Linked DNA regions of Homo sapiens: region 1 is linked to region 2. The links come from fine-mapping of genetic effects on gene expression. A gene starts in region 2. The other region holds a variant in brackets. All regions are shown on one strand. Distances are between the middles of the regions. Region 1 overlaps FPGT-TNNI3K (FPGT-TNNI3K readthrough). Region 2 holds the start of FPGT-TNNI3K (FPGT-TNNI3K readthrough).

What was found.
Region 1: its variant is fine-mapped to the expression of FPGT-TNNI3K in fetal neocortex (Walker 2019, PIP 0.95). The same link has a PIP of 0.9 or more in prefrontal cortex.

Annotation. Positions count from the first base shown.
Region 1 is chr1:74,219,437-74,224,826 of GRCh38, reverse strand. All of the region lies in intron 3 of FPGT-TNNI3K (FPGT-TNNI3K readthrough), which reads right to left. Among named protein-coding and RNA genes, the nearest start is that of TNNI3K, 13 kb to the left of the region's middle. The variant AC/C (reference allele first, on the strand shown) is at 2,649.
Region 2 is chr1:74,195,185-74,200,574 of GRCh38, reverse strand. It overlaps FPGT-TNNI3K (FPGT-TNNI3K readthrough), which reads right to left and starts at 2,333. Exons shown (of 27, transcript NM_001112808.3): 1 at 2,215-2,333; 2 at 744-911. The coding sequence starts at 2,296. It overlaps LRRIQ3 (leucine rich repeats and IQ motif containing 3), which reads left to right and starts at 2,399. Exons shown (of 8, transcript NM_001105659.2): 1 at 2,399-2,579. FPGT (fucose-1-phosphate guanylyltransferase) reads right to left here and starts at 2,333. Exons shown (of 4, transcript NM_003838.5): 1 at 2,215-2,333; 2 at 744-911. The coding sequence starts at 2,296. RefSeq lists a silencer at 2,396-2,495.

The sequences.
Region 1 (5,390 bases), 24 kb before region 2:
AGGCATGCTTCATTCTTTTTTATTCTTTTGTCTCCTCTGTGTATTTTCAAATAGCCTGTCTTTAAGCTCATTAGTTCTTTTTTCTGTTTGACCAGTTCTGCTATTAAGACTCTCATGCATTCTTCAATATATGCCAATTGCATTTCTAAACTCCATAATTTCTGCTTGATTTTTAAAAAATTATTTCAATCTCTTTGTTAAATTTCTCTGAGTGAATTCTGAGTTCTCTGTGTTATCTTGAATTTCTTTGAGTTTCCTCAAAACAGCTACTTTAAATTCTCTGAAAAATTAAATATCTCTGTCTCTGCAGGATTGGTCACTCGTGTCTTATTTAGTTCATTTGGCAACATCATGTTTTCCCGAAAAGCCTTGATGTTTGTGGATATTCATCTTTGGGCATTGAAGAGTAAGGTGTTTATTGTAATCTTTGCTGTCTGGGCTTGTTCGTATTTGTTCTTCTTGGGAAGACTTTCCAGGTATTCCAAAGTACTTGGGTGTTGTTGTCTAAGCCACATCTGTATTCAGGGGCACCCCAAGCCTATTAATGCTATAACTGTTGGAGACTTGTGGAGGTATTACCTTGATAGTCTTGGATAAGATCTGGAATAATTCTCTGAATTTTTAGGCAGAGACTCTTGTTCTCTTCCCTTACTTTCTCACAAACTAACAAAATCTTTCTCTCTGTCCTGAGCTGACTGAAACTGGAAGTGGGATGACACAAGCATCCCTGTGGCCACCACCACTGGGGCTTCACACTGGGTCTCACTCAAGATCCACTATAACCTCTACCTGGCTACCGCCTATGTTCACTCAAGGCTCTGGGCTCTATAATCAGCAGGAGGAGGGGAAAGCCAATCAGGTTTGTGTCCTACTTTTCAGGATGGCAAGATTCTCCAGGTCCTGTGCAGGTCCAGAGGTGCCATCTTGGAGCCAGGTACTAAAGTCAAAACCTTGGAAGTCTACCTGGTGTTTTATTGCACTTTGGCTGAGCTGGCACCCAAACAATGAGACACAGTCTTTTCCACTCTTCCCTCCCCTTTCCATAGGCAGAGGAACGTCACACAGTGACTACCACCATCACTGGCCCATGAGGAGTACAGCCAGACTACTGCCAATGTTCCTTTAAGACCCAAGGGCTGTTAAGTCAGCTTGTGGTGAATGCCACCTGGCCCGGGACTCAACTTTCAGGGCAATGGTCTCACCTCTAGCCCAGGGCAGGTCTCAAAACGCTGTCCAAGAGCCAAGGCCTGGAATTAGGGACCTTAAGAGCTTGGTGCTCTTCCTGACTGTGGCTGAGCTGATACCTAAGCTGCAAGACAAAGTCCCCTTTATTTTCTCTCTGCTTTTCTCAAGTAGAAGGTGTCTCTCCCTGTAGCTACCACAGCTGGAAAAGTGCTGAGTCTCATCTGAATCCAGCAAGTCTCAGAGTCTCACCCAAAGTGCACAGCATACAACCTAAGTATCACTGCTGGTTATTCAGGGCCCAAAGGCTGTTTAGTCAGCAGGTGATGGGTCCTGCCAAAACTTGGTCCTTCCCTTCAGGGCAGCAGGTTCGTTTCTGGCCCAGGGTATGTTTAGAAATGTTGTCCTGAAGCTAGAGCCTAGAAGGGGCACCTCATGACTCTGACTGGTGCCATATTCTACCGTGACTGAGCTGGTATCGAAGATGGATGACCAAGTCCTCTTTACTCTTTCCTCTTCTTTTTGAGAGTTTTCTTTTCACTTGTCAATTATCTACCTGTGGCTGTTCCTCAAAGTGAAAAGAAATACATTTTGATATAGGCAGGACAAATTATTTAAAGATTTGAAAAGTGGGACTATATAATGTGGTTGTTAGAGAATCCATAGATATGTAGCTATTATGTAGCAAAATTAAATAAACAAGTTTGGGTGGTTCCCCCTTGTTGACTCAGTGACTAATTCCCTGTTGCTTACTGCAGCAGACTCCAGTGATAGAGAAAGCAGGAAGCTGCTGTGTCTGCTACACTGTGGCCACTTAAAATTAAAATCGGTCCTGGTAGTTCTTCAACTTTAAGGGAAATGCCATGCCTGAACCGAGATCGCGCCATTGCACTCCAGCCTGGGCAACAAGAGCGAAACCCTGTCTCAAAAAAAAAAAGTTGAAGGCCCTGAGACAGAAGAGCATTATCTAAGCACCATGCCTCTTGGTTTATGTAAGATCTTTGAGTTAGCATGATGAGTGATTCCATAGGACCAGTTCTTTGCTTATTCCCGCCAAGCAGAGAAAGTCTCAGTAAGCTCTCTGTCTGTAGTTACCATTATTTTTGTTACATCTTCTCCTATATCTTCTTAATGCCAGAATGGTGATTATAGTTATCATGTACTATGTTTTTTAACCCCCTTGTCACCATTCTCTATAACAGTGGCAGAAATAGCATTAGCAATTTGTGTGTACGCAAAGGTTCATGATCTTCCTTCATCGTATTGGCAAGCTCAGCACTCCACCAATAAGAACTAACTCTGATTCAATTGTATTTTGTTTCTATACATTGTATATTTAGTTGTGGAGCTAGACTGGCTCTTTTCATACTTGAAATTCCACATATATAATCTTTAACATCTTGCATAAAATTTAAAGGAGTGCTAGGAGTTAGTATAATGCTGTTGGGGTAAAAAAAAAAAAAAAA[AC/C]TCAGCTTTCATTCATAACCCCATTAGTGGATCAACACATTTCATTTGGTGAATTAATAGAAAGTTGCAGTTTGTATGGTCACACAGATTTCTGATTTCTTTTTGCAGAGACTATTGTCTCTGAAGCCAATTATTTAGGGACTTGTTATAGCAAGTAATATTTGAGTGCATCCTTAATGCCAGGCAGACTTTTAATAATAAACCCAAGTTGAGTGCTTCCAATTCAACATATGTCCTCATAGATTTATATCTCATTTTATTGGCATCCAAATAATATACCCTTCCCAACCAGAATTCAAGTTTAGTATCTAAGTATATACAAAAAGATTTACATTTTAATTACAATTTGTGAAAAACTTCATGTTTTCCTTACAACTGTACTCCCCTTCTTCAACATGGATTATCAAGAGTAGACTATAATTATTATGAATTTCAAGACCACTTGTTTTCACAGAAAGCCATTTTTAGGAGTTCTTGCTACTAGTAAGCCTAAATTGTACTTCCTTGTCTGGTAATATGGAGAGTGATTGCTCTAGTATTCTTGCCTTTATCTCCAGGAAAGTCATATTCCTGCTTCAAAATGTCAGCTGTTCTGAGGAGTCTTTACCAACTTCACAGAACATTTTGGCCATGTTGTCCTTGCTGCTCCCGTTGTATCTCATACCCTTTTTTGTCTCTTAAACCCATAATTTGGTCACATGAAGTTCACACTAATGGAGAAGAAAAATTGTGAATTAATGGACTTAAGCTCAAGCTAGAAACTTTAAAAATGAAATTGTCATCAATACTAAGAGGCATGTTCTGAATTACATAAGGAAATTGTACATGCAAAGGTGTTAGAAGCACCTCTGTGTTGTCCGGGGGTCTCATTCTTCCCGTACCAGTAACTTTATAATTTAAGGTCACCCCCTCTTGAGGTCCAAAGCAAATGATGCAAAGACAATTCTAACTGTGGTGTTTCTGATGCCTGGGTTTATTAAATCATAATAGAATATACTGGATTTGATTACAAGTCTTGAGTCTATTTGTTTAAGTTGGCTCACCATGTGTTATCATTTCCTAACTGCTGGCCGGAGTTTCCCAGGTTGAGGTCTAGGTCTGAGTACACAAATAGTTACCTAAAATTATCACCCATATTTCCCTAGTTCATATATACAGCCAGAGAATAAATGATAGGGCCTATGGTAAAGGGTAACACGGCATTTGGAAAATGTGTAGGCCTTAAGCATATCAGAACGAGAGAGAAATGCATATTATCACATGAGAGTTTTCACAAATTAACTCCATCATTATCTTTCTGAAACTCTCATTGCCCATGATGCTCGGTGCAGCTATATAACAGTTAACCTATTAGTGAACTACAATAGTTATGTTCGGGTCCCCTAAAGACTATATATTCTCTCTTTGACTTATTATATAAAACTCATTTCTTCTACAGAGTCTGGACATGTACTAATTTACAAAGTCACCTTGAGATGATCTATCAGGGCTGCATCCTTTAATGTTACTGAAGATGGCTGTTAGTAACTATTTCATTTTGAAGACTAAACATATTTATATTTGGTAAGTTTATACTATAATTTTATATGTGTGCATATATACTATATATAATACAATGTATACATTACATAAATATATATACATATATACAATACATATATGTAGTTTAAGAATAGGCAAGAAATTAAACACATTTAAATCCTACTCTAAGTTGCTATCCATGCAGCATCTGCTTCTATTAAGGGATTTATTATAGAATATAGAATTAATGCTTTTATCCCTCCTCCCAGGCAATAAGTAACTTGAATGCAGGCATCTTTGCATTTGAAATAGCCCACCACAGTTCCTTATAAGTATAGACATAAATTTAATTGTTTTGGAATGAATTGAACTGAATAAAATTGAACTGAACTGAAAGGGACTGAACCAATTGAATTGCTTAGAATACATTCCTTCAGTAAGAGGAATATTGCTAAGGTCGGAAAAGAGGTAAAGTGAAACTAGAGTAGGCCATTGCAATTCTGCAGCCTAAATACTACAGGCTTTTGAAATTCTATGCAAGGAAAATTCACACAAATATTAGTCTCTTTGTTTTCCTCATCTTCCTGTATATGTAATCCTTAAGAGGTTTTTGCATTAGTTGGAGTTGCTAGCATTAGTAATTTATACAAGGGATTTGATGTTCTAGCAATAACTTACAAACCAGACTTTCAGGGAGATTTTACAAACTACAATTACAAGAACCTACTCGTGATCAACTAAATCAGAATCTGCTGAGGTTAGGTCCTTGAATTAGAAATAAAATAAAACTCCAAAAAGTGGTTTGACACAGCTTGTCTATAAGGAAGTATAAGGCAGGGCCCTTGCTTACAGAGCTTACAACCTAATTTGATATTCAAAAATCTAACTAACTTATTTTACAAAGTAGCTTTTGATGAGTATCAAAAAAAAAAAAAAAAAACTTCCACATGCTATGAAAGAGGAAGAAAGGGTTAATCGGGCTAGTAGTACAGAAGGATTTTTGAATCTGGCATGATTTGCAATAAGTCTTGCTACTTGTAGATTTTTAAAAATCTTAGACAGTGGGAAAATAAATAACAATTTAATATCTAAAATATGATAAATCAAGAGTCTGGACACAATTTAGATTATATCACATCAGAGAACTAGAAAACTTATTAAGATGATGTTCATTAAAATCTCTATTATTGTTTTACACAGTAAACAAATTAAACAAAATT
Region 2 (5,390 bases):
TAAGATCGCACCACTGCACTCCAGCCTGGGCAACAGAGCAAGACTCCTTCTCAAAAAAAAAAAAAAAAAAAAAAAAAGAAATAATAACAGTACTGACCTCATAGTTGTAAGGATTAAAATAATGTTGGCTAATTAGAATAATGCTAATGTCATATTAATGTCATATACAGATATCTTATCTCTGGTATCAGGGGGCTTCAACTTTAAGTATCACATAGAAAAGAGCATTCAGAAAAACAGCATTTATTTCTATTTGCAATGGACGGTCAAAGGGCAAAGTTGACCTAAACTAGGGTTTTCAAATATATGTATTATATTTAAGCCATGTGACAGTGTTCTTTTGCATTCTGCATTATGTCCCTAAGAGGTCAAGAGTATTTTTTCCCACTAATTGCTTTCTTCATGTAAATTGCTGGAGGAACTCTGGAGTGGAGAGGACCTCAAGGGTTCTACTGATAAGGTCCAAAGGAGTATTCCTATCTGAATAGTGTGAATTTCATTAAAACTAATAAAATTTTCTTTTAAGTAACATTCTGGAAGTTTTTCAAGGTAAGTCATAATGGGTAAGAACAGTTGCTATTCCTTTTATCTTTCTAAAAAAAGTCAATTTATGTTCAAATTTTAAAGTTTGTAAAGCTGTGGGTAGAGATATGCAGCTTATACACTGTAAGTCACAGAAACCTTTTCTTCAATGATTATTCTGCTTAGGACCTATATTATAAAACTGACCATAAAGCGCGTACCAATTTTGGCTCCAGCAGGATCCACAAAAACGTGATATTGAACTCCAAGGGGTAACTCCTTTCTTTTCAGCTTTTCTGACAGCTGTTGGTTGTAAGCAAGTTCCTGTTTTTCATCAGCCGCTGTTATTGCAACTATGTCCCAGAATTCTCCACGTGCTACAAGTTTGCCTATTTGGAAAAAGCAAGGAAATGAAAACAAAAATTATCAGAATTTTCTAGTTGCCACAGGTTTGCCTATTGAGAAAGATGATAAAGAAGGTAATATCCATTATCATCTTCCAAAATGTATCTTTGGCTTTTGAAAGTTAGGGAATAATTAGTGGTGCATTAATACGATTCAAAATAGTTATAATGAAGACTGTTCACAAGTTCCTTTTTTTTCTTTTAGATCACTCCCTCCTTTTATGGTTTGCAATCCAATTTAATTATAAATTCTGAATGACATAATGTTTCTTGATTAAGAGAGCGACTTTTAACTTGCCAAAGACTATTGCCTCAATTCTTCAATAAGAAGAGGAGATAAACATAAACAAATCTCCAGCTTTGCAAATCAATTCTTATGTATCACGGACACTTGGTGTTAGGTGACTAAGAAAGACACAACCCAAAGATCCCTTCCCTCAATGTTGCTGTTTATAAATGTGGGTACTTTATTTTCTATTACTTTAAGATGAACCATGCAAACTTACATAGGCTGTTAGAATATAACATAAAATTCTGGATAACAGAAGGTCCCAACTCTCTGATGACATCTTTAAAAGACAGTGTGCACTTTTAGTAGACAGTTGGAATCTCTTTATTGATAAACAAAATGATTTAGCATTTTAATTAGTTAACAAACAGAACTTGTCAGCTAGAATCTAATAGTCCTGAAAGTTTTACTGTTATCCAAGAATTAGTCCCAGTATTTTTTAAGCAGTCACTGCAACACAAATATAATCACTTTTATTAGACAGGTGTACAGGGATTAAGTGTCATAGCCAATTTTTTGATAACAAATTTCTTCCTTTTAATTTTTAATCCATAATTCCTCCATGTTCTGTTACTCCCTCAACAAACGGTTACATTACAGAAGTAGATGAACGTAATGTAAAGCGTGAAGTAGATAGGGGGCTGGCATCTACTCATAAAGTTCAAAATACTGTGCTTCGTATCTTTTAGATTTATTTAAAGCAACTTTTATTAATGAGCTAATCAATGCATAACTTCACTAGTAAGATTTTCTTCTTCTTCCTCCGCCCTCATTTTTAATATCTATACTACTAAGAATAAAGTAAGCAACAAGCATGTCAAGCAGGGACAGTGAAAAGAATAAAAAACTCAAAAGGATTATTAGCTAGCTACTCCTGGGGAGCGTCATAGGCCTACAGATGAGAAGTAAACGGGAAGTGACAGTCCAGCAAACCTCCTGGCACGTAAAAGCACCCTCCCTCTGCATTGCCCAGGAGAACTCCGGTGCCTTCTCTGGTACCTCTTAGCTCGGAAAACCTCCGCAATTTTCGCTGGGTGGCTTCTCGCAGCGATACTTCCGGAGGGTCCCTAGCAGCTGCCATAGCCCCACCTTCCCTGAGACCGCGCCGCACAGCACGCATGCGCCCTGGGGTGCGCCTCCGCCCGGTTGTTTCTGACCCGCCCCCTCCGTGCGTCGCCCACGTAACCACGCCCCCGGAGCGCCTTGGCTGGCGCCCGGAAAACCATGATGTGGAGAACTTGGATGTTGTCTTGTTTCTCTAGCAACGGTCTCAGGAGCAGATGGCCGCCCAGCGATTTGTCTGACTGTGTTGGGGCTGGGCCACTTGTCTCCAACTCATAAGGGCTTGCAGCCCAGTTGACCCGGTGAGTGGTTCAGTTTGGGTGACAAAATTGTTAGAACCGACCCGCTAAGGATAAGGCGAAACTACATTCTAGCTTCCCAGCTTTCACATCAAAGGCGGTTCGTCCTAACTGGTGGTTTGTTTCAGCCTGGAGCAGTTCCCCAGGATAGCCTGATAGAAGATCTCCGCCATCTCTCCTTTCCCCCGCCACCCCGGGCCATCTGCCCCCAACCCTGGGTCATGATACATACACAGTCTGAATATTTAAAATCTCTGCTCTTTCTAGGAACCTTAAGTTTGTGGTTCCTAGAGAGTGAGCCACCCCACCCCTCTGTTTTTTCTTAGTAGGCTACACACGACAGCCTCTCAAATAGTGTCTTTGAAAGTTGTATAAAATTCAGTCCGCAACCAGGCTCCAAATATTTTTGGTATTTTGGTTTCTTCTCTGGCATTCTTTTGTATATGCAGATTAATCTAGAATGTTCAATAACACTCTTAGGAATAAGTCAGCCTTTTTAGGTGTTTTTTTGGGTAGCTATATAAAGGTGTTCCTGTTATAGAACACGAGGTTTCTTGGTTTTACAGACCACTTCATCTTTACACAGAAGAAAACTGAATCAGAGAATAGTGAGTTAGTCAAGGTATCACAATTAGTAAGTAATAAAAGATTTAAGAAATATATTTCAATCCCAAACCCAGAACTTGTGGTATTTCACCATACCGTTTGATTTTTTGAGACGATTTCTCTGTATCAACGTCTTCATTAGGTACGTAGACATTCAGGGCACCATAAACTCTTGTCATAAATTTACTTAGTTTTTCTTCTCAGACTTGTTATACAATCGTGTTCTAATAGTGGAAACATTTGGATAAAATGGCAGATTAGATTACTCTTTCATAGTTTTACATTTAAAACTTCATTAATTAAAAAAACAGTATCTTATTGAAGAACATTTAGAAAATACAGAGACTTGAGTGAAAGTAACCAAAGGAGAAAGTAGCGAGAGAAGGTCAGAGAGAGAACAAAGGGCCATAGGAAGAATTTTGGTTTTTACTCTTGAGGGAAACAAAGCCATTGCAGGGTTTTGAAGTGACTTGGCTTATGTTTAAAGAGATCACTCGGAGATAGGAGAATAGATTATAATGGGGGATGAGGCAATGATAGAAGCAGGGAGACTTCTTTGGAGGTTACTGCAATATTGCAGGTGAGAGCTGGTGAAGGCTTGACCAGGATGGTAGCAGTGGGAATGGTGAGAAGTTGGTCAGATTCTGGATATATTTTTAAGACAAAAACAATAAAATGTGCTGATGGAATTAATGGGTGTGGACTGTAAGAGAAAAAGAGGAGTCAAAATGACTGCCTTGGGATGGATTGGCCATCAATTAAGATGGGTAAGTTTCCGACTGAGGAAGGTTTTTGGGGTAATAGGGTCCAGAATTTGATTTTGGACATGTGGAATAAAGAGACATGTGTATGCAGTGAATATGTAATGGAAGTTTGTGTGTGTATGTGTCTGTATGCATTATACATACGAGTCTAGAATTCAGGAGAGAGGTCTGGGCTAGAGATACAATTTTGGGAATTGTCAGCAAGAAGATAGAATTAATTTTAACTGTGGAACTAAGTGAGGTCCCAAGGGAGTGAAGGTCAGCAGAGCCTATATGTTTGGGGTCTGTATATTCTAATAAGGTGAAATAAAGAAGGAAGAAGTAACCAAATAAAAAATCCAGTGGTAACAATTGTGAGGAGACAAACAGAGTGATGTGTTAGATTCTATCATACAGAATATTAAATAGAGTATTTATTGGATCTAGGACGGTATCATACAGAATATTAGAGTATTTCTTGGATCTGGGAAGGATGGCCATAGAAATTGGATATTATTTTTTCTCAATATGACTATATCATGCAATCAAAATTTGCTGGAAATAAATATACCATATTATCAGCTATGGCTTCTGTTTTCTTTCTTTTCTCAAATTTTCATTAATATTAATTTTTAGTAAAAAAAAAATTAAAAAATACTATATATATGAGTAGGAGTAAATTTCCGTGGCAGTTGATTGTTGGAGGCAAAAAAAGTTTAGGGATTTTATTTAAGTTCATATTCACTATAATAAAACAGTGTGATATGACTGTTTAACATCTTAAGCTACCAGAGTATTATTATACTAGAGAATTCGCCACAGAGTTTTTCCAGGTATTTATCAGAATGTCATTTTACCAGAGTAAAATATATCAATCCAGCCAAGCTGTAAGCCCATTAATTCTGCACAAATCAAACACACAGGAAATAATCTGTTTAGTTTTGGATTCCACATTTTTAAAAAGATGTTGAACATACTAGACTATAATAAATTGAAAAATTATATTCTGTGGAGGCATTTGGGCTTTTTATTTCCAGGAGGAGAGTAGAGAGTATCTGAAGAGCTGCCATAAGGAAGAATGAGATAGATTTTTTAAAGCAACTTTATTGAGGTACAGGTTTAGAACATTTTCATCCCCCCATTAAAATGTCTTCCAACCCATTTACAGTTAATGCCAGTTACACTGTTTTTTTATTACTACAGGCATATAACTATGACTGTTGTGTGGAAATTATAGAGAAGAATGTTTTAATTTTCCCCCCTTCTTTATATGAGGAAGTTGAAGCCAAATGAATAGGGTCCTGGATTATATACTGTGGAGCTCGTAGTGCATGCTGTGGTCAGGCCAAGCTAGGGCTGTACTTGTTTCCAGTCCTTGTGCTTCATGGCTCTGTTTAACCACTGTTTCCTCCTGTTACCCTTCCTGACATGCAACGAAAGCAAAAATTGTCTTTTTGCAGTTTGT